Linked DNA regions of Homo sapiens: regions 1 and 3 are each linked to region 2. Evidence: fine-mapped expression QTL. A gene starts in region 2. Each other region holds a variant in brackets. All regions are shown on one strand. Distances are from middle to middle. Region 1 has its middle 12 kb from the start of OR56B1. Region 2 holds the start of OR52N4 (olfactory receptor family 52 subfamily N member 4). Region 3 overlaps TRIM22 (tripartite motif containing 22).

What was found.
Region 1: its variant is fine-mapped to the expression of OR52N4 in whole blood (TOPMed, PIP 0.97).
Region 3: its variant is fine-mapped to the expression of OR52N4 in whole blood (TOPMed, PIP 0.97). The same link has a PIP of 0.9 or more in lung.

The regions. Positions count from the first base shown.
Region 1 is chr11:5,720,607-5,728,798 of GRCh38, forward strand. It overlaps a transcript of OR52N4 not described here and the pseudogene OR52P1. Among named protein-coding and RNA genes, the nearest start is that of OR56B1, 12 kb to the right of the region's middle. The variant TGAA/T (reference allele first, on the strand shown) is at 3,456.
Region 2 is chr11:5,749,741-5,757,932 of GRCh38, forward strand. OR52N4 (olfactory receptor family 52 subfamily N member 4) reads left to right here and starts at 4,503. Exons shown (of 2, transcript NM_001005175.5): 1 at 4,503-4,565; 2 at 4,953-6,218. The coding sequence starts at 5,001. The coding sequence ends at 5,966.
Region 3 is chr11:5,705,393-5,713,584 of GRCh38, forward strand. It overlaps TRIM22 (tripartite motif containing 22), which reads left to right. Exons shown (of 8, transcript NM_006074.5): 5 at 1,202-1,224; 6 at 2,781-2,881; 7 at 3,185-3,211; 8 at 3,661-5,471. The coding sequence ends at 4,256. Among named protein-coding and RNA genes, the nearest start is that of TRIM22, 20 kb to the left of the region's middle. The variant C/T (reference allele first, on the strand shown) is at 3,672.

The DNA.
Region 1 (8,192 bases), 29 kb before region 2:
CACCCAATGACTTGCCCAGCATCAAATCAATGAGTTGTAGAATGCTACTTACTTTGCCAAGATAAGGCTAAGCTGTGTGTGTAGGTGTGTGTGTGTGTATTTGTGTGTTCAAGGGGAAGGTAAAATGGAGAAGATTGCTTAGGAGGAGTCAAAAAGGACAATGAATGTTCAAGATTGAATTTAGTCACTATGTTATCCTTACTGCAGAAGACTTACACTTGAGCAACAGAACTGGTTCCTTCCTTATAAGCCTAGGGAATATGTACAGAAAACATAATCTGAAATTCCCAGAGAAATTTCAAAGGAAAAGGAGAAAATGGGAAACTCTTACTCTTAGAAGGTGGATATGCATTCTAACAAATTTTATATTTATAAAAATTCCTAGAGTCAACTGTTCTGCTTGTCTCAACTAATTCCAGCATATGACAAGAATCTCTAGCAAAGAGAAAATTCTGAGAATGTTCTGTGAAGGGTCATAGTTATAAAAGTCAGTGTTATATTGGAAGTCTTGGTTACAGAATTCTGCCAGGCCATTTCTCTGGAAATCAAGGAAGAAATCATGAACAAGCACTTGGAGTGGTGTGTAGAGTTCAGATCGTGTGCCAAGATATGTGAATACATTAAGTTCAGGAGATATTGTTTATCACTTCCAGACATTGATTTGGAATATAGTGGCAAATATTTTAAGACTCATGAAGTTTGTAGCCTGAAATATTTTAGGATTTTTCATCATATTGTATAGCTAATATGTAAAGGCAGAATTCAGTGAAAAAGACACCTACTTTAAAAGCCACATGACCACTATTTAAATGAGACTCTTAAAATGTCAGGAAAATAAATGCAACTTTTCCAGAGTGTTGTTCTAGTTATACTAATAATTAAGGCTTGAAGTAAACAAAAAATTTAATAACATAGGCTCAGAAAGGTGGGATATTTCAGAGCTTGAAACAAACAGTCCAACCTTCAGGAGAAAAAAAAAAGAGAGAGAACTAACCAGGAAGTGCCTTTTCTATAAATGGAAGACCAGAGATCAAGGAAAATTTGCAGGAGCATTAATGGCTGAAGAACAGAGTACTGCTTGTCTGAAATAAGTACTAAGCACATATTTAAGCCACTACAAACCTACAAAGAAAAAAAAGTCGTCAGCAAAATGTTGTGCTTAACAATTTTTTATTTTTATTTTTATTTTTTTTTATTTTATTATTATTATACTTTAAGTTTTAGGGTACATGTGCACAATGTGCAGGTTAGTTACATATGTATACATGTGCCATGTTGGTGTGCTGCACCCATCAACTCGTCATTTAGCATTAGGTATATCTCCTAATGCTATCCCTCCCCCCTTCCCCCCACCCCACAACAGTCCCCAGAGTGTGATGTTCCCCTTCCTGTGTCCATGTGTTCTCATTGTTCAATTCCCACCTATGAGTGAGAACATGCGGTGTTTGGTTTTTTGTCCTTGCAATAGTTTACCGAGAAAGATGATTTCCAGCTTCATCCATGTCCCTACAAAGGGCATGAACTCATCATTTTATACTCATAAAAAATTCCATAATTTTTTATAATTTTTGCTTATCTCTTTATTTTGAACTTGTATCTATCAATCTTGTTGAAATCTTTATAGACTAACAAATTCTCTGTAGATTCTCTTATACTTTCTATGCAAATTGTAATACCATTCATGCTTCCTATTTTTTAATTATCTTTTCTTCTTATTGCATGGCTGTGACCTTTGGTACAATACTCAATATGGAAGGAGCAGGGGGATTGCGTACTCCTTTTTATTCTTGCTTTAGAAGCATTTAGAAATGCTTCTAACATTTTTACCATTTATTACACATTTCTAATTTTTTAGTTCAGCAATATCTCATACTACTTGTGTCTCGTATTTTCTTAAAAAGTAATATAGTCAGTCTAAGATTACATACAGATTTTCACTGGGCTTCTGTAGTAACATCATATTATACTTCCATTTTTGCAGTGTCTGATTTGTGTCTTATTTCCATTTCTAGTGCTTATTGCTAACACCCCAAATTCCTTGCAGAATACAATAATGACATAGTAAAATAAATGGAGAAAACACATTGGTTTCTTTATTAGTCAAGATTCAATCACAAACACAAAACCATTAGGAGAGATATATACATACACATACACATTCAAGGGATTGGCTTACATAACTGTGGAGGCTGGCTAGGCAAGTCCAAAGTTCACAGAGTGGACAGTCAGAGAAAGTAAAAATCACGAGCATGCTGGAATCTGCCCAGGCATGGGATGAAGCTGGTTTCTAGAGGTATGAGTCTTTCTTTTTCCAAGGAAGCCCTAAGCCCCTTTTAAGGTCTTTTAACCGATTAAGTCAGGCCCACCCCAGATAATTCACCTAACTTAAAGCCAACTGATTAGGGTATTCTGGTATATCTCCGCAACAACTTTGCAGCAACACCTGTATTCGTGTTTGAATAACTGAGAGTGGTGTGTGTGCAATGCAATGGCTGTTATTTCCCTTCCATCTTAAGTCTCACAAGAGATTATTTCCAGTAGTCCACTTATCTGAAAAGATAATAGAAAGTGAATTCCAGGGAATATAGTTTTGCCTGTGCAAGTTGACACTCCACAGGGCTATTACATTCTCCATAGAATGCATTATTCACAAATTTTCCCAGAAGTTGCTGAGAGGTAGACTTGTTTTGTGGGATGAACAAAAAAATTCCCAGTGGGTTGAAGGCTTTTGGAGGCATCTTTAGCTCTAGAAAGGTAAAATTTTTCAGGTCAAGATTCTAGGAAAGGAAAGTTGCTGCAAGCCTATTCTGCTCTAGATTTTTAACATGACTTATTAAGGATATTTGTGGTAGCCAAATTGTCCAGTAGAACTCATGAAGAGTGCAGACCAGATAGCAGTTTGGGGAGAAAAACTCAATCAAAAAACTTAAAAAAAATTTTTTTTGGGGGTGGTGTTTCTTTAAAGTATGATCTCTTGACCAACAGCATTCCCTTTAATTGGAAATTTGTTAGTAAAGGAAATTTTGAGGTCGTGCTCCAAACTCACTGAATTAGAAACTCTGGGGATGTGGACTAGCAATCTGCTTAACAGGAGCGGTAAGTAGTTTAGAAGTACAAGAACATTTTCAAACCACTGGCTTAGAGAGCCTCTCAGGAGCTAAGATAGAGTATGATCACCAGAATTCAGATCCAGTCCAGGTGTGGGCACTGTTCATGGTAAGGATAGATCTCTTTAGATAGGGTGTGGCTGAAGGAGAAAATAACCAGGGGAGCTTTTGGAAAGAGAATAAGGAGACCGACTTAAGTAAAGATGATAAGGAGTCCAACTGCCATAAACTGTGGAAAAAGACTACAGTTCTACATTGACAATTCTCCAAACTCTCCCTGCATAATGTGGAATCCAGATCATGGCAGGAGCTACTTTTCTGAGAGGTTTAAGACACTCATTCATAACT[TGAA/T]GAAGGTCAGGGATGCATGGTGGAGTAAATTACAGTAGTGGTAGGGCTATACCAAATAAATATTTGAGTATTAGAGTATTGGTACCAAGAGTAAGTTAGTCCATAGAAAAATTAGGTTTTAGGTTTAATGCAAATGAGCTCTTTGACAATATAGTTTACTGAAATAAGTACAGTGGACAGGTTTTCAGCAAAGGCCACCAGGAGATATAGGTTTGGTAATGCTTAATGCATGTCTTCTCTGGTGTGCTCAGTTCGTAAGATAATTACTTTATATGGTGAAAAATTGTCTTTAATAAGTCACATCTCCTAGATATCATGTATGGGTACAATTTCCTATTGAGTTTCATTACCATCTTGCTACATCATTCACAGGCAATATAAAAAAATCAGCAGAGCATTTTACAAAGCCAGTCAGCAAGTCTGGGAACATGTGTAGTAAATTCTCTACAGTATTAGAGTCTTAGGAAAAAGTAAACATAGCAGAATGCGCCAGAGATAATCACAGAAAAGAGTGGAGGGGAAAGAAAGCATGTCCTGGAATCCTTTGGGTGGTAGAACTGCCTTCAAGTAACCACAGTATTTGTATCCTCAATGACTCTAAAATGTTAGCTGCCCTTATGGAAATGGTGCCAGTACTGATATGTGGGGAGTTAAAACCAAACCAAAACAACAGGAAAAGAACTCCAAGGGAACAGACTACAAATATGTCTTCCCTGAATCTTTAACAAAAGCCTCTGGCTTCACCTTCACATTCTGATCTGGACTGCATTCAGAAGAGTAGGGCGTGAATGCCCAATTTCCTAGGGAACACAGAGGCTCCCTAGGCAGCTCTAGCCTTAAACTCAGTGCAAGCCAGTACACTCCCAGGGGGCTGTGAAATGTATTTCAGATAGTTGAGGGTGAGCAGAGACTTGTAATGTTCTTGCAATCTTCTGAGGATGCTTCTACACTGTGGTGCCTTCTCTTTTCTGCTCTCCTGGAATCCTGTGAGTTTGGCTAGGAAAAGACTCTGGAAAAGGCATTTCTTAGCCCTCAAGAGAAGTTTTTCTGTGCAAACTGGTTATGGAAAGTTTGCTTGAAAGCATGGAGAATAAGATTTAAAATAAAGATTTAAAGATTTGCTTGAAAGCATGGAGAATATCCAGGAAAGGAAATTTCCCCGAGTAACACCTCTGTAGAGTCTAATTTGGAATTTTAGTTAGCAGGCATCCTGAAACAGAAATTATAGTTTGGCGTTAAGCTGAGTAGTTGGAAAGGGGAACACAGTGGGGAACTACCTGGAAAGGAAGAAGCAAGTGATATGTTAACCAGATGAAAGACATGCGAGGCATTGTGAAGAAAGTTTATGGCATTCACTATAATATTCCTGAAATTACTAACAAGCAGTAATTTCTCATGAAGCATGGAAGGGGGAATTTGTGTGCCTAGTGAGATGGACAGACGCTATAAAGATGAACAGCATGAAACTAGGCAGAGGGAATCAGCAGAACCTTAGATTTCCTTGAGCTTTTTTTGCCCCTAGTATTCTGACATCAGGCACATTAGTCATCACTGTCCAGGTAAAGTCAAAGTACTCTTGTAAAATCGCTTCTTGCCACTGTGGAATGGTAACATTGAGAAGGATTTGACTATGCCCTTTCTTAGAAATTACCAGGTACAGCAGATGGAATGTGAATAAAGGATTGACCAAGATGTGGGCTGAAAAAGCTTGGAATTTTCAGTTTCATAAATAGAATGAAGTCCAAAAGGGTTACCTTCAACATTTTGGGGAAAGGATAGCTGAAGCATCTTATGAAATTTCAGATGAAGATTGAGCGGATATATGTGAAAATATATCTATAGCTTAGTAAAAAGAGTGGAAACGACTAGAGTAATATTAAGTTCAAAAATAATTACTAAGTACAGGGTCCCAAATTAGAATCTATTCCAACTTAAAGGACAAGAAAAAAAAAGTCCAAGATTACCCAGTGAACTATGTTTGTAGTTTGTGTCACCAAACTGATAGTCATGCCTAATTTCTTCTTATACTCCATAAAAGACAGTGTGTATGTATGTGTGTGTGTTTCTTTGTGTGTATGTATGTATTCAGGTATATGTGTATAGCCTTAGCTAGGAGACAATTCTAGTTTATCTAAAGGCTTATTTGAGCCTTTTCTCACGTTCATTTATTTTATTTAATAAGCATTATATATCAGGTATTATTCAAAGCTCTTTAGAAATCTTTAGACATATTAACCCATATAATTCTCTTCTCTATAGGGAATAGATATGATTATTATTGCTATTTTATGGATGATGAAGCTTTCTAAACATGATATAGCCAGTAAGTGTTACTATTCTCTCATTCCTATCTCTGTTCTATCTTGTTCCTCCAGATAATGTGATACTATGTGGAGGTTTCTGACCACAGAGAATGTCCAGCACTCTTGGCCACAACATGGAATCTCCTCATCACACTGATGTTGACCCTTCTTGTCTTCTTCCTCCTGGGCATCCCAGGTCTGGAACAATTTCATTTGTGGCTCTCACTCCCTGTGTGTGGCTTAGGCACAGCCACAATTGTGGGCAATATAACTATTCTGGTTGTTGTTGCCACTGAACCAGTCTTGCACAAGCCTGTGTACCTTTTTCTGTGCATGCTCTCAACCATCGACTTGGCTGCCTCTGTCTCCACAGTTCCCAAGCTACTGGCTATCTTCTGGTGTGGAGCCGGACATATATCTGCCTCTGCCTGCCTGGCACAGATGTTCTTCATTCATGCCTTCTGCATGATGGAGTCCACTGTGCTACTGGCCATGGCCTTTGATCGCTACGTGGCCATCTGCCACCCACTCCGCTATGCCACAATCCTCACTGACACCATCATTGCCCACATAGGGGTGGCAGCTGTAGTGCGAGGCTCCCTGCTCATGCTCCCATGTCCCTTCTTTATTGGGCGTTTGAACTTCTGCCAAAGCCATGTGATCCTACACACGTACTGTACATGGCTGTGGTGAAGCTGGCCTGTGGAGACACCAGGCCTAACCGTGTGTATGGGCTGACAGCTGCACTGTTGGTCACTGGGGTTGACTTGTTTTGCATTGGTCTCTCCTATGCCCTAATTGCACAAGCTGTCCTTCGCCTCTCATCCCATGAAGCTCGGTCCAAGGCCCTAGGGACCTGTGGTTCCCATGTCTGTGTCATCCTCATCTCTTATACACCAGCCCTCTTCTCCTTTTTTACACACCGCTTTGGCCATCACGTTCCAGTCCATATTCACATTCTTTTGGCCAATGTTTATCTGCTTTTGCCACCTGCTCTTAATCCTGTGGTATATGGAGTTAAGACCAAACAGATCCGTAAAAGAGTTGTCAGGGTGTTTCAAAGTGGGCAGGAAATGGGCATCAAGGCATCTGAGTGACCCTGGAGTATAGAGGGACTTAATCCAAAATAAAAAAAAAACCTTTTCAAGATAATCCTCAGTATGTGAGACCAGAAAGAGCTTTTAAGAGGGGGATAATGTCTTCTGCAGAACTTTCTAGACCATTTCCAAGAATGATAAATCACAGAGAAGGGCATTCTTTCTTTCCTTTCAGAGAAGTGTAAACATGGGAAGATTCTTGCAACCTGGGTAACGTGCAGATATTGAAAACAACCCACTGTGTTCTGGAGGGTTTCTACCCTGCTGCAGTTTAGAAGAGTCCCTGCATAGCCATAAGATCTCTTCTCATTTCCTGGCACCCTTCCAATATTCCAGGCATGGATTTCTAATTTCATACCTTAGGATATACCAGCTATCTTACCAGCTGCAAGAATCAGAAGATAGGACAATATAGCCACAGTTAAAGTAGTTAAAGCCGCAAAAAATTTATCATGCTTTTCCATAAACCCTGTATTTCTCCATTAGAGCTTCAAACCAAGAGGAGAAAAAGATCCACCAGCATCCACAATGTTACTTAGTGGCAGAACAAAGCTGTGAAAACTAGAATCCTTTAGGACTTCTATGAATGAGGGCACAAGAGAGGTTAGGAATAACTCTTCATTTCTAGACATTTTCTATTTATCTCACAGGTACACTCCTGTCTCCAGCCTCTCAGGAACTAACCTAAGTCTGAATGACCTTGGATATCATCCCTCACAAGCAGTTTCCAATTATTCTTGTACATACATACAATGGGAGGACCTTTCAGAAGTCATTGACTTATCTCCTGAACCTATAAGAAATGGCCACTTACCCAAACCACTCAGAATGGGAATTCTTAATTATGAAATTAGTCTGTATTTATTAATTCTTCTATTTATTTATAATGAAAAGAAGATTAAGCTTGATTCTAGTAACTCCATGTGGTGATGGAAAGTTCCTAACTATATCCATGAAACTAAGATTGGAAACCAGTTACTGTACATACTGAGCTTTCTGTCCACTCCTCACCAAATAGCTTCAGACAATTTATCAAACACATTCTCTTAACAAATTAGCATTTTCAATTTTGAGTTCGCCAATAGTACACATTTTTTGCTTGTCATCCGCTTATATGCCATCCTACCCTGTTAGGTGGAGGGAACACAAAACTCCCTTGTGGAAGTTCACAGACACTCCTGTCCTGGGAAAGTATCAGTCCTGAGGTAGAAAGCCAATGCCCAGCTCTTCAAAGCTCTGTCTCTGTCAGGAATATAAGTGTTTTATTGGGACACTTCAAATATGTTGGGATAAACAGTGCACAAATAGTGAAACTCAGTGAAGTAGGCTGAGCA
Region 2 (8,192 bases):
TGGAGATGGTTGAACGAAAACAAAACAAAACAAAACAAATTTATTGGCCTACAGAGTTTAAGAATGAGGTTAGATAGAAGATAACATGTATCAATATTACTTTTCCAATGACTCTTTCCACACCCCAGCATAGCAAAGTCAAATTTCTTTGCAGAAGAAATTAAACTTTGATGTGTACAAACTATTTTAAATGTTTTAGGAAGAAAATTGCATACGTTTGTACTTATTAATAATACTTAGATAGTTATGTAGTTCTTGGAGAGCTTTGTAAATGTGTTGAAGATGGGACCTAAATTGTTGTGTAAGCATAAAACCAGTTTTAGTGACTAAAGGTATGCCGAAAACAAGAAAATATAGGAAATACTAATAAAATATTTATCTAGTATTTAGATACAAGTGTGCATGTAATCTCAGAAGCAAATTATTCTATTTTCGGTTTAGGAGATATTTATGCTTCCCCTAATTTCTCTACCTACTTCTAACACATGGATACTTATTTCACATGCAGTGGAACCATGAACACATACTTGGATATGTGCAGGTTCAATACAGATCTACAAGTATATTTTTCTCCACCCAGGTAATTGTTCTTTCCACACATAATTCATTAAGACATTAAAAATAGCATTTTCCATTACTTGAAATGGTCACTTTAACTCCAAGAAAAGCTGCAAAAGTGCATCCTGAGCTGCTATTTACAAAGCAATGTATAGCCCAAAACAAGCACTGAGCATCACATTTAATAAGACACTGTTCAATATATTAAAGTGAGATGGAGAAAAGAATCGTGACACTATTGAATAGTTTATACTAAATTTTTATAAATTATTGAAAAAGTAGTTTTATAAATGGATTATTGCCACTGTCACTGTCAGTTATTTTGCTTAATAATATATTGTAAAACATCTGAAAAATGAGGTATATGTAAAAAATCTGAAAAATATAATAGTGACTACAAATATAAAATATAAATTCATAGTTTATAAATTCTGTCTGAAAGGCAGAATCCTGTAATTTTGATGTTCATAGAAAAACATTTCATGTATTGAAGACTATCTTTTATGCTTTTACAAAATAATAATTAACATACTTCTGAAAATTCCAAAGCTAAAATTTCAATTTTTGAACCATTCACTTACCTTAATTAAAAATTTAAAAATGAGTTTATAAGCTGCTATGTAATGTAAGTGTAACTTTGGGAGGTCCTCATATTAACATTGTCCCTCCATATCAACAAAGTGAGAATGTGAATTTAAGTGCTTTTCGTTATTTGTGTTATAGAAAAACCTTATCAAACTTGGAAAAAAAACAATTTGGTACAATTACCTTTAATTACACAATGCTAAGCGTTTTGTCTTCTCAAAGTGATCTTGACTTGAGTGTTTTAGCTTTGAATTCTTTTTTCTAGTATTAGTATATCCTAAGTATGAGGTATACTGTTTATCTAAAAATATTATGTTTGTATATATTTTTAAACCTTTGTGTATAATTTTCATTCTGATGAAATCTTATACTGCATATATAATTTTTAAAAATTAGTTGGAATTATTTCAACTTGATGGGAAGTTTAAATTATTTTTATATCCAAAACCAATGTTTGTTCTGCCTTTGTCATCTTTTTTTTTCCACTTTGTATTCTCTGTTTCTCTACTTTATGAGAGAGATGCCTTATGTTGTTTAGCTTTTCTAGTAATCTTAAGTAAAACTTTCTCTTTTTTTTCCTTCTAGTGGTTTCTTTTATACATTCCAAGTAATATTAGGTTGGTGCAAAAGGAATTGTGGCTTTGCCATTACTTTTAATGGTAAAAACCGCAATTATGTTTGCACCAATCTAATAATACTTAGATTATAATTTAATAATTATCAAAATAAAGTGTTTCGGGTGAGTCATTCACTTTTTCATTTACTTATTTGTTTATTTATTTTAAAATTGACATTTATTGAGTATCTAATATGAGAGATTTGATTTGCTCGGCTCTGAGGATGCTTTACCAGACACTGTCCTTACATCGGTGATTTCACTGAATTTTGGAGAATTCCTAAATATAAGTTGATTTTCATAATATCATGAGGGAAATATTATTAAAGAGAATAATTGTTTGAACAAATCAATTTCTTACCCCTAGTCAAGGCTATTGGTAGCTACATTATCTTAAAATAATTTAAAGGATGGGTCGCTATCATGTCCAAAGGACATTTGAGACCTCCTGATGATGGTTCTGCTTGAAGAATGTATAGGGATTAGCTACATTTGAGGGGAGTGGGCAAAGGGAGCACCAAGGAGATAGAGGTTTGCCTATCACAAAGCTGAGAATGTCAGTGCGATATGAGTAGGAAACAGCAAACAGCAACAGAAGAAAATGCTGTTCCTACCACTTTGACCTGTCAGAATTCTAATCATGCTCCAGGTCTGGAAGCATCTGTCCTCTTCTCTAGGAGCATCTCCTGAGGCTAGGTTAGACACACAGGTGCTCCTATGACACCCAGTATAACTCTGACATTTTGTAATGACTTGAGTACATATCTTTGAGGAGCATGCCTATTAACAAGTTTAACCTGTGTTTTTCTACTATTTTCAAAACAAGTTGCCTTTTGATAAATCTGATCTGTCCTCTTCATCTTACCCAATAAGGCAGAACATGTGACTGTACTTCCTATCAGATGCTAATCTTAAAACAGTGTATTTTATTAATGGAGGTTAGGATGAATACCTCCTCTGATGGGGCACAAAAGAGAGTTCATTTGGTGGCACTCATGATTCCTATGGTGTTAATTTTTGTAAGCATTGCCAAAATGGCTGCCAGCCTGAGTAGAAAATACAAATATGGGTATTGAGCACTTAAAATGTGGTAGCATGTTTTAACATATTACGTCCTTTAATCCTCTTGGCAATTTAATTTTTGTTATTATAAATTCTAACATACATATGCAATTTTACAATTAATCCAATTACATGTTGATTGATTTTTACAACCTGAATCTTGTATATCTCACAACCAAATCAAGTAAGGGAATATGACCAGCAACTAACAGGACCCTTCTACCACATACTGCCTTTCAGTTATCACTCTCTCTCACTTTTTAAAAAGATTTTTCTATTTCTAATAGCACAGAATAATTTGATCCGTTTTTGTATTTCATTTAAAGATCACAAGATGTTACATCTATTTTAAGTCTTTCTAAAAAAAATTAACACATATTGTGAGATTCGTCTATATTATGCATATAGTCATAGATTGTTTATTCTTATTGTTACGTGGTATTTCATTGTGGGAATGTACCAAAATTTATTTACCCATTTGATGTTGATGAACATTTAGGTTTTTTCCAGTTTTAGGCTATACTACAAATCATGTTTCAATAAGCATTCTAATTGATGTATTCTAGTAAATATATATACATAGTTTTGTTGGAAATGGCAATGGTGGTCATGTGTATGTTTATCATTATGAGATATCTAATAAAGAGTTGTTCTAATTTACATGTCTACCAGCAGTAAATGAGAGTTCCAGTTGTTCTACATCTTTGCCAATGCTTGGTATTTTTAGTTCTTTTCATTTTAGCTGTCCTGTTTGGTATGTCACTACATACCAAAAAAAGGTGCTTTGTCATGAGAGATACAATTTTTACTTATTTTTCTGATTAATATAAAAGTTTGTGCCTATTTACCTGTTCATTGGCAATTTTATTTCTCTTTTGAAGTGTATGTTTCTTCCTGCAACTTTTTCTTACTGATGTTGTTGAAGTACTTTATATATTTTCTGTATGTATGCATTTGGATATCTTCTAGTTTGCGTTGACTAGATACATAAAGAACAAGAAAGATATCTTGAAAAGTGAAAAAATTGAATCAAAACTTCATTGACTTTTTTAATTTTAAATTTTTGTGGGCACATAGTAGGTGTATATATTTATGGGTGTATGAGATATTTTGATAGAAGCATACAATGTGTAATAATCCCTTTTAAAGGGCCGGGCACAGTGGCTCATGCCTGTAATCCCAGCACTTTGGGAGCCTGATGTGGGTGGATTACCTGAGGTCAGGAGTTGGAGACCAACCTGACCAATATAGTGAAACCCCATCTCTGCTAAAAATACAAAAATTAGCTGGGCGTGGTGGCATGTGCCTGTAGTCGCAGCTACTCGGGAGGCTAAGACAGGAGAATTGCTTGAATCCGGGAGGTGGAGGTTGCAGCCAAGATTGCGCCACTGCACTCCAGCCTGGGCAACAAAGCAAGACTCTGCCTCAAAAAAAAAAAAAAAAAAAAAAAAAAATCCCAGTAAAGTAAATAGGGGTATCCATCATCTCAAACATTTATCCTTTGTGTTACAGACAACCCAATTATATTATTTTAGTTATTTTAAAATATACAATTAAATTATTATTGAGTATAGACACCCAATAAATTTACTAATTTTTGAGACCCCAAGCTTCATTGAGTAATAATTTAATTAAAATTTCAAAATTCTTTGAACAGTGCCTGAGTACCCAAGAATAAATATCAGTCAGTCATTAAGAATAAAAATTAAAAAGTCAACATCTCATCTCTCAGATCATCAGTGAGGTAATCAAATGACTCTTCTTTAAAATTATATCTATATTGAGATGAGTATAGTTATAGTTAAGTAAGATATTCTAATAAAAATACCATTTGAAAAGTCAGAATTATACTTGATTATAAATCTATGAGATTGGGAATATGTCTTTTTATAAAATAATTGATGTTTGATTGGCATCTGTGTTGAAAACTTAGACTGCTCAATAAGAATTTTTTACTGAATCAATTAATTAATCAATCAATAAAACTAAACAGACAAACAAAATTATTTCTTGGCACTCAGAAATTTGGTTGTTGGACCATTAAAATGCATTATGGAATTTTTAAAAGTTGGGGGAGAGGGAGACAGTAAAAATAACCTATATTTTCTCTTGTTTTTTTTTTTAACTCTAGGAAAGCCCAGACAAATTTTGAGCTATTTCATAACCTACCAGACTTATCATGCTAACACTGAATAAAACAGACCTAATACCAGCTTCATTTATTCTGAATGGAGTCCCAGGACTGGAAGACACACAACTCTGGATTTCCTTCCCATTCTGCTCTATGTATGTTGTGGCTATGGTAGGGAATTGTGGACTCCTCTACCTCATTCACTATGAGGATGCCCTGCACAAACCCATGTACTACTTCTTGGCCATGCTTTCCTTTACTGACCTTGTTATGTGCTCTAGTACAATCCCTAAAGCCCTCTGCATCTTCTGGTTTCATCTCAAGGACATTGGATTTGATGAATGCCTTGTCCAGATGTTCTTCACCCACACCTTCACAGGGATGGAGTCTGGGGTGCTTATGCTTATGGCCCTGGATCGCTATGTGGCCATCTGCTACCCCTTACGCTATTCAACTATCCTCACCAATCCTGTAATTGCAAAGGTTGGGACTGCCACCTTCCTGAGAGGGGTATTACTCATTATTCCCTTTACTTTCCTCACCAAGCTCCTGCCCTACTGCAGAGGCAATATACTTCCCCATACCTACTGTGACCACATGTCTGTAGCCAAATTGTCCTGTGGTAATGTCAAGGTCAATGCCATCTATGGTCTGATGGTTGCCCTCCTGATTTGGGGCTTTGACATACTGTGTATCACCAACTCCTATACCATGATTCTCCGGGCAGTGGTCAGCCTCTCCTCAGCAGATGCTCGGCAGAAGGCCTTTAATACCTGCACTGCCCACATTTGTGCCATTGTTTTCTCCTATACTCCAGCTTTCTTCTCCTTCTTTTCCCACCGCTTTGGGGAACACATAATCCCCCCTTCTTGCCACATCATTGTAGCCAATATTTATCTGCTCCTACCACCCACTATGAACCCTATTGTCTATGGGGTGAAAACCAAACAGATACGAGACTGTGTCATAAGGATCCTTTCAGGTTCTAAGGATACCAAATCCTACAGCATGTGAATGAACACTTGCCAGGAGTGAGAAGAGAAGGAAAGAATTACTTCTATTTGCCTCTTATGCAGGAGTTCATAAAATCTTTCTGGAAGCACTGTATTGATCACAAAATGGAGTTTGTTAACTGGTGCATTCTCAATAAGTACCTTGGGAATCTCAACATCATTGGAAGGCCCACCAACATTTCTATAAATTTTTTACCTTCTCACTCATGTGAAGGACCAGTCTAATAATTAAACCATATTTTATTCGACAAAACCTAATGAGTCCATTTTTTATGAAAAGACAAATCTAAGTAGAAGGAGATGATGTGAGTCTTCTTTTCAATGATCACAATTTTCAGATTAATATTTCAGATTAATAGCCAGTTATTACTTTTGTCTAGAAAACATGTGCTATATATTTCTCATAACTACCAAAAACCTGTTTCTTCAATGACATTTTCCTGAAGGAGAATCTAGAGTGCATGCCATAAAGTCTAAAATGAGTTTTAAGTCTCTAAGCATCTAGCTAAAATATTATTAGGCTGAATAGGTCACATAATTATTTCACAACAGAATAATTGGATATTTCGTTTTCTTTAAAGGGGCTTTTTAAAAAGCACAGAGCCTGGAAAGAGAGGTAGAGATCTTAACCAAAAATAAAAAACAGTATAATTTTTTTCTAAGACCTGTATGAAAGGGGATCAAAATCTACTTGTTTCATTTTATCTCTAATTGTGAATCTAATAAGGAAAATTAGGTATATATTTCTAATATTTAAGATTTATCTAAATTAAAAAACAAGTGAGAAACTATAGAACATAGTATTTTCATATTAATGTCTCATAAACTAAGCCAATTATATAAGGAATATAAACTCAACTTTTACTGTTATTTTTCTGTGTCCAACTGACAAGAAAACATGTACTTCCCTGAAATTTAGTTAACTATAGTCGTCAAATTGCATTTATTCACTTAGTGAATCCTTCTTGACTATGTTGCATTTTACAAGCTGGCCAAACAGCAGTACCCACTAAAATATTATTATCCTCCATGTATCGCCCTATTTCAATATTTGCTACCCTAAAGCTAAAAGTCATCAGTATTCTCTTTACTTCCTCAACCTGACATCACTCTTCTCCTAGTTTGTCTTTCTCTTATCCCAGTTGTTATCTGAAATTGCTATTGTCAACTTCACCAATGCTTTTCCATGTTAACAAACTAAATAGTCCTCCTTCTTTGCTCATCTCACACTCTCTCAGGAATATTGATTTCAACTCAGTATTTCCAATATCTTGAAACACTATATCATTTTTATTTACTTCAGAGACACTACATATTTCATTTATGTAATACACTTTGTTTAACTTTGATTTGTTTTCTACATTCTCTTCCTAGGTGTTCTCCTTTAGTGTCATGGTCTTAAGTATTGGCTATAAAACTAATGATTCCCCAAAGGAAGCTAAGGTTCAGAGAACTGTTTTCCACGTACTTATTCTTCATGGCATACTATCTTTCTTAGACAGGTCAATATCTCCTTTTTCCCCCTGCATTCTCCATGTCTACTCCAATTTTCCATGTCCTGCTCCTCCAGTTTATCTCCCAGTGATTTTGGCATAACGTTTGTTATATTTTAGTTTCCTTAAAAATAGATGTTATTATTCAGTGATTTTATGTGTTTTAATTTAAATACATTTTATTGTGCTAAACAACTTAATCTGCTAATTTCTCACTCAATACTTTAAGATGTATTTATCTTAAATATCTTGGAACATGTATTTATATTTTATACTTGTCAATGTAATGTATATTACTTATTTCAAAATTGTTAAGTTGGCTAGATACAGTTTTGATAAAAAATTTGCATCTACTAACTTCACAACACACAAAAATCACCTGTGCTTCCATACACTATCTTGAACAATGTGAAATGGAAATTAAGAAAACAATCTTTTTTACAGTAATAATATTAAAAAGAATATAACACTTTGGAATAAATTTAACCAAGAAGGCAAACACTTATAAACTGAAAACTACAAAACTTTTTTTTAAAGAAGATGCAAATAAATGGAAAGATATTTTATGTTCACATTTTAGAAGACTTGCTAGTGTTAAAATTCTCGTACTGCATGAGGTAACTATGAACTTAGTGCAATCCTTATTTAATTCCCAATGAAAATTTTTATAGAAATAAAAAAGCAGTGCTAATATTCATGTGGAACCACAAAGGACTATAAATAACCAAAACAAT
Region 3 (8,192 bases), 44 kb before region 2:
ATTCTGATGGCAAGATTTTAGTTTAAAGATGTAGCTATGAGTAAAATTATACTTGACCCCTTGAATTTGTTTTTTAAAAATTTAAACCAGTTTTAGTTGGTTTTGTCAGATATTACAACAACAAAAAAGCTAATACAGGCAGTGAAACTATTTCTGAGGGTGTGAAGTCAACTGGAGGTCAAGTCTTTGTTGGTATAAAGGGGGTCAGATCAGACAGCGGGAGATCAAATATATTGGTACATACTTGTTCAAAAAAATAAAGGAAATAATGGTTATGGTGAGAAAGAAAAGATAGCTAAAAACAGTTAAAAATGTAAACTAGTCTAGGTTAATAAAATGTTGGAATCCAGGATAAAATTTTATAGTTTCAAAGATGATGACTAAGTGGATATTGACACTATTCGGGACAGTGGGGTGTAAATAGTTGGGAAATAGTAAGTTACATTTAAGACCTACTCAGTTACTTGGTCCTGTGGCTTGTTTCATACTGAAAAATGTATGAGATCACCTACAGTGGAGTTTAGTCAGCATACACAGTGAGTACATGGAGGCCAGACAAACTTTTAGTTGAAATGCTTGCTTGCTTTTGCTCACGGCAACAGTACACTTCTTAAGGACTTTTATTATTAATTTTCATCATTAGATCCCTAAAGCCTGAAAAAATATAGGGCAAACGTATTTCGCTGTTTTGTGTCTGTTGATGTATAAAATAAAAACACAATGAATTAATGAGGTTTTCTCATTAAAAATGTATAAAAATATTAGAGCTCCTCCCTCTTTTTAAAATATATTCCTTCTTGAGATACTTGAAGCATCTTCCTAACACCCTCATCTTAGTCCTCTGCAGTGGTCAGTCTGAATCTTATCTCCACACTTTGTCCCCAGTCTGTGACCATCTATTTATTCCCACCATATCCAGGGATAGTAAGAGTGTGGGGAGGAAGGTGGATAAAACTTTGTAAGATAGGAGGGCCTATTACTTTTTTGAGCATTGCTAGACAAAATACAGGATGCTCAGTTAAAGTTTAATTTCAGATAAAAGAAATGTAATATTTTTAGTATAAGAATATCTTAAATATTATAAGGGTCATATATATAACAAAAAATATATTGTTTATCCCAAATTCTAATTGAACTAGCCACTTTTATGTTCTAAATCTGGCAACCCTATCTTGACTCATGTTTTCTATCTTTTCCCCAGGATGTGATTGACGTCATGAAAAGGTATATGTGGAAGAGAGATGTGGTCTTATTTGTCTGAAAAGAGAATTATAGTCCTGAGAGATATCTTCCTTCAATCAGAACAACTTAAAAAATCAAAAGGCTGGGAAATTTGTGTATTAAATTGTCCCAAATTGCTAGTCACAGATTAAAGTTTTCAATTGTAAGAAATTTTGGTGTTGGGAGATCACAGAGTTAGGGTCGACGGAGGCCTTAGGAATAAGAGTTTGCAATATCAGAACCCCATGACTTCACTCACTTTATTCAAACCTCTGTCTCTGTTGTTTCCATATTGCATAGATGCCTGTCTTATTGCAGTGAGGCTCTGCCCTTTTTATATGCCAGACTCCAAATTTTTCAGAGACAGCGCCTTTATGTTTGTTTTCCTCCCTGAGAATAAAATAAACAATAACTTTCTAGGTGGTGCTTTTTAGATTTCTAGAAAAATAGATTCAAGTCTTGAGGAATAGTGGCTTTGGTCCTGGTGCTAGCATAACCTTTTCTTGCTCACATACTTTACCGTCTTGTAGGAAAAAATAATATTCTTGTGTCTAAAGTTGCCCACCTACTTGGCAACATCAAAGTTTTTTTAAACACATGAAAATCAGACCACTATTAATTAATTTAGTCATCGTAATTTGTCTTTCCCCAAATAACTTGAAACCTCAGACATTATTCTCTAGGTCTCATATTGGGATAACAGATTTTGGAAACCCTTTAGCTCTTCAATATAGGATCCTACTTTGATATCTCTCAACAACTCAGGAGACAGATTCTATGGCCTCCTTAATGACCACCTGTCTAGGAACCCACATCTCTGGCCTCTTCCTGGTGGACCCACTGAGATGGCAATGACTTTTCTAAATATTAAATAAGTTTTTTAGAGGCACTGAATATCTTTTAAAAGCATTATTGGCTGGGTGCAGTGGGTCACGCCTACAATGCTAGCACTTTGGGAAGCCGAGGCAGGCGGATCACTTGAGGTCAGAAGTTCAAAACCAGCCTGGCCAACATGGTGAAACCCTGTCTCTACTAAAAGTACAAAAAAATTAGCTGGATGTGGTAGCAGGCACCTGTAATCCCAGCTACTTGGGAGGCTGAGGCAGGAGAATGGCTTGAACCTGGGAGGCAGAGGTTGCAGTGAGCCGAGGTCGCGCCACTACACTCCAGCCTGGATAACAGAGTGAGACCCCATCTCAAAACAAACAAACAAACAAACAAACAAAAGCATTATTATTTTATCTAATTTTATATTCATTTTTAAGAGGTAGAAAGCATGGGGTTAATTATTGCATTTTAAAAGTAAGAAAGCGAACATCGTTGAAGTGAAGACCTTCCCAAGATTACACAGAGGGGAAGACCTTCCCAAGATTACACACAGACAGGTAGACATGAGCACATTTCTCTGGACTCCAGTGTCAGGCATCTCCCCTCTACTGTCCTCAGGGAAGAGGGTCCAAGTGCGTCAGCAAGTATGGTGAAAGGTGAAAGAGACAGTGATCTTGGATGGAGAGAAATAGGGCAAAGGTGTAAAGGTTATCAATTTTTGTTATCACTAGGAGTGAAAGCTGGACATTGAAGAAGCCAAAATCTGTTTCCAAGAAACTAAAGAGTGTATTCCGAGTACCAGATCTGAGTGGGATGCTGCAAGTTCTTAAAGGTAAGGGGATTCAGGGGAAGGCTGTGAATGTGGATTTCTTAGTATCAGGGCTCAATAGGGAAGCGGGAGGTTTTTTTAGGTTAGGATATAGGAGAGGAGGTGGGCCAGAGAAGGAGGAAAATCCTGTGCTGTAGATGTGGTCCTGTCTTAGGGGGAATGACCAGGTGTCTGATTCATCCTCTCATTCACCAGTGCAAAGAATCCCAGTATTCCCCCTTTCCTTTCCCTACTCTGGAGAAGAGACAGGTGTCAGTACTTACTTATTTGCTTCTAACAACATCACTGAAACTTTTGTCGTTTCAGAGCTGACAGATGTCCAGTACTACTGGGGTAAGATGATATGGGGTTTTCAAATCACTTCCTTTCAGAATTGTGGTTACTATTAGATCTCATAATCTGAGTCTCATGTGTTCCTCCCCAAACATGCTTAAACCATGTAGTTCTTTTTTTTTTTTTTTTTAAGATAGATTTTTGCTATTGTTGCCCAGGCTGGAGTGCAATGGCGCGGTCTCGGCTCACTGCAACCTCTGCCTCCTGGGTTCAAGCGATTCTGCTGCCTCAGCCTCCCAAGTAGCTGGGATTACAGGCGTGTGCCACCACGCTTGGCTAATTTTTATAGTCTTACACCCTGTATTTCTTAAGGGTCCTACTAACCTCTGACTATCAACACAAGTTCCGTTTGATATCGACACAAGTTTCATTTTCAATATGTCTCTTCTCAATGCTGTAAGACACACCTATCCCATATCCTTCACTTGACTTGGTAATTTTTTCTACAGTGGACGTGATG[C/T]TGAATCCAGGCAGTGCCACTTCGAATGTTGCTATTTCTGTGGATCAGAGACAAGTGAAAACTGTACGCACCTGCACATTTAAGAATTCAAATCCATGTGATTTTTCTGCTTTTGGTGTCTTCGGCTGCCAATATTTCTCTTCGGGGAAATATTACTGGGAAGTAGATGTGTCTGGAAAGATTGCCTGGATCCTGGGCGTACACAGTAAAATAAGTAGTCTGAATAAAAGGAAGAGCTCTGGGTTTGCTTTTGATCCAAGTGTAAATTATTCAAAAGTTTACTCCAGATATAGACCTCAATATGGCTACTGGGTTATAGGATTACAGAATACATGTGAATATAATGCTTTTGAGGACTCCTCCTCTTCTGATCCCAAGGTTTTGACTCTCTTTATGGCTGTGCCTCCCTGTCGTATTGGGGTTTTCCTAGACTATGAGGCAGGCATTGTCTCATTTTTCAATGTCACAAACCACGGAGCACTCATCTACAAGTTCTCTGGATGTCGCTTTTCTCGACCTGCTTATCCGTATTTCAATCCTTGGAACTGCCTAGTCCCCATGACTGTGTGCCCACCGAGCTCCTGAGTGTTCTCATTCCTTTACCCACTTCTGCATAGTAGCCCTTGTGCTGAGACTCAGATTCTGCACCTGAGTTCATCTCTACTGAGACCATCTCTTCCTTTCTTTCCCCTTCTTTTACTTAGAATGTCTTTGTATTCATTTGCTAGGGCTTCCATAGCAAAGCATCATAGATTGCTGATTTAAACTGTAATTGTATTGCCGTACTGTGGGCTGGAAATCCCAAATCTAGATTCCAGCAGAGTTGGTTCTTTCTGAGGTCTGCAAGGAAGGGCTCTGTTCCATGCCTCTCTCCTTGGCTTGTAGAAGGCATCTTGTCCCTATGACTCTTCACATTGTCTTTATGTACATCTCTGTGCCCAAGTTTTCCCTTTTTATTAAGACACCAGTCATACTGGCTCAGGGCCCACCGCTAATGCCTTAATGAAATCATTTTAACATTATATTCTCTACAAAGACCTTATTTCCAAATAAGATAATATTTGGAGGTATTGGGAATAAAAACTCCAACATATAAATTTGAGGAAGGCACGATTTCACTCATAACAATCTTACCCTTTCTTGCAAGAGATGCTTGTACATTATTTTCCTAATACCTTGGTTTCACTAGTAGTAAACATTATTATTTTTTTTATATTTGCAAAGGAAACATATCTAATCCTTCCTATAGAAAGAACAGTATTGCTGTAATTCCTTTTCTTTTCTTCCTCATTTCCTCTGCCCCTTAAAAGATTGAAGAAAGAGAAACTTGTCAACTCATATCCACGTTATCTAGCAAAGTACATAAGAATCTATCACTAAGTAATGTATCCTTCAGAATGTGTTGGTTTACCAGTGACACCCCATATTCATCACAAAATTAAAGCAAGAAGTCCATAGTAATTTATTTGCTAATAGTGGATTTTTAATGCTCAGAGTTTCTGAGGTCAAATTTTATCTTTTCACTTACAAGCTCTATGATCTTAAATAATTTACTTAATGTATTTTGGTGTATTTTCCTCAAATTAATATTGGTGTTCAAGACTATATCTAATTCCTCTGATCACTTTGAGAAACAAACTTTTATTAAATGTAAGGCACTTTTCTATGAATTTTAAATATAAAAATAAATATTGTTCTGATTATTACTGAAAAGATGTCAGCCATTTCAATGTCTTGGGAAACAATTTTTTGTTTTTGTTCTGTTTTCTTTTTGCTTCAATAAAACAATAGCTGGCTCTACTGAAGTCTCATTCTTCAGTTTCCAAAATCTTGCTGCAGATAATATGAGTTTCCATATGTCCAGTAAAGAAGGTCATGTCTAGGCTCAGCTGTCCTTGATAAGAGACAGCCTTATGCTGTTCAGATCTGTTTCTCGTAATGAAACACTTGTGTGTACCATTGCATTTACCATCCTAGGTACTTTTCTTTTTTTTTTTTTTTAAGTCTTTTTTCAAACACAGGATGAGTAGTAGAACTACCTAGGATAGCAAAGACACAAAACATTCTTGAAGAAATATATTGTATTAGTCGGGGTTCTCCAGAGAAACAGAACAATAAGAGATATGTATTTATTATGAGGAATTGGCTTACTTGATTATGGAGGCTAAGACTTCCCATTATCTGCCATTTGGAAACCAGAGACCCAAAAGCTGGTGATATAAGTCAGTGTGTCTCTGAAGCCCTAAGAACCAGGGAGCTGATGGTATAAATGCCAGTACAAAGGCAGAAAAAGATGAGGTGACATGTCTCAGCTCAAGTACTGCGGCAGGAAAAGAAGCAAATATCTTCTTCCTCAACCCTTTCTCCTACTCAGATCCTTTATGGATTAGATGATGTCCAGCAACTTGGGGGAGGGCAAGCTTTGGAGAGGTAGCCATTACTGAGTCCAGCTATTCAGGTGCTAATCTTTTTCAGAAACACCCTTACAAATACAACCAGAAACACCCTTACAAATACAACCAGAAATACCCTTACAAATACCACCAGAAATAATGTTTAATCCGGGCAATCTATGACCAGTCAAATTAGCATGTAAAATTAACCATCATGTATACATTATAAATTAGGGCAGGTTATGCCATTGTACAGAATTCACATCAAGATTTGTTGGACTTTGAAGAAAGGAATAGTGTGAAAGTGCCTGGCTTGAGATTGATATAGACATGTATACACATTCATTCATATATCTATACATATAGGTATATATACATATAATAATATGTATAAATATATTATAGATACACACATGAACATTATCCAAGATAATCTGTACAAATATCATAAAAAGGAGATTTTTTTTTTTTTTTCTGAGACGGAATTTTGCTGTTGTTGCCCAGGCTGGAGTGCAATGGGACGATCTCGGCTCACTGCAATGGCACAATCTCTGCTCACTGCAACCTCTGCCTCCTGGGTTCAAGCAATTCTCCTGCCTCAGCCTCCCGAGTAGCTGGGATTACAGGCACGTGCCACCATGCCCGGCTAATTTTTTTTGTATTTTTGGTAGAGATGGGGCTTCGCCATGTTGGCCAGGCTGATCTCGAACTCCTGACCTCAGGTGATCTGCCTGTCTTGGCCTCCCAAAGTGCTGGGATTACAGGCGTGAGCTACCGTGCCTGGCCAAAGAGAAATTTATATAAAGGGGTTGAAGGAGTCAATAAGCTGTTAGAGTTTTCCTGATGGTCCCAAAGCTATTGAGTAGAAGAGGCAGGATTAATACCAGGCCTGTGTTACTAAGCACCTATGCTCACTCCTCTGTACCACACTGCCATGGAGAAGGCCGCAGCCAATTTCCCAGGAGATGGGGACAGAAGGGAGAGCCCAGGAAATGCTGATCTGCAGGAGTTTTAAGAAAAACTTTAGGTGCCATCAAATGTAAATTGATAATCTGAATACATATAGCCATAAATGAGGAAGAAGGACATGGAAGCACTTTATGACAAGTAGGCTATTGCAGATGACATGACGAAAATGTTCCCTCCTCTTGGTGTAGAGGATGAACTTTATAATTGAATGGTTACAAACTTGCATTCTGAAAACAGGTGGAATTTTACATAATGATGACATAGCCACCTAGTGGCCCTTATAAGACCTACCTGGCAGTGATATTATGAGAATTAAATAATAGTATATTTGTAATAACTTCTGCTATTTCATGGAACATATGCACTGACACAAGAGTGGTATATGTTATTTTTTTTCTTGGATTCTTTTCTCTGACTTGAGAAAAATAATTTTAAGAATGCATACTAATTTAGTTTTGAAATAATTAACTGTTTTAAGAAATAGAATAATCTGAGTAAAGAATCAAAGTCCTTAACATTTTTCAATTGAATTATTAATAAAGATTATATTAATGTACAGTATTTTACCCATGCAGGTAAAAGTTGCATTAGCTTTCTTTGCTGCATTAAAATAGGCTATTGCAAATTTAGTAGCAAGATAAATGTAAGATAACATTTGTTATGTTACAGTATCTGTGGATCAGAAGTCTGGACCCAGCTTAGATGGGTTTTCTCCTTCACGATCTCTCCATAATGAACTCACAGTGCCAGCTGGGATGAGTTTTCATGTGGAGGTCAGAGTAGGGAAGGACCTATTTCCAAGCTAACTTAGGTTATTAGTAGAATTCAGTTCCTTGCTCGTGTAGGACCTAGGCCCTCTGATCCTGAAGACTGCCTGAAGTTTCTTGCTACATGAACCTCTCAATAGGTAGTTCATACTATGGTTGTTGCCTCTTCAAGGCCAACAGGAGAAGAAGACTATTTTAGTGAGAAGGCCTTACATAATATAAGACAACCATGGTAGTAACATCCCATCACTTTTGCCACATAATGTTGCTTATAAGGAATTCAGAAATTCTGCCTACTCTAAAAAGGAAGAAATTTTATAAAGGCATGAGTATAAAGAGGTGGAAATTAGTGGGTGTCTGTTCGTTACAGAGGGGTTTGGAGAAAGCTAGTG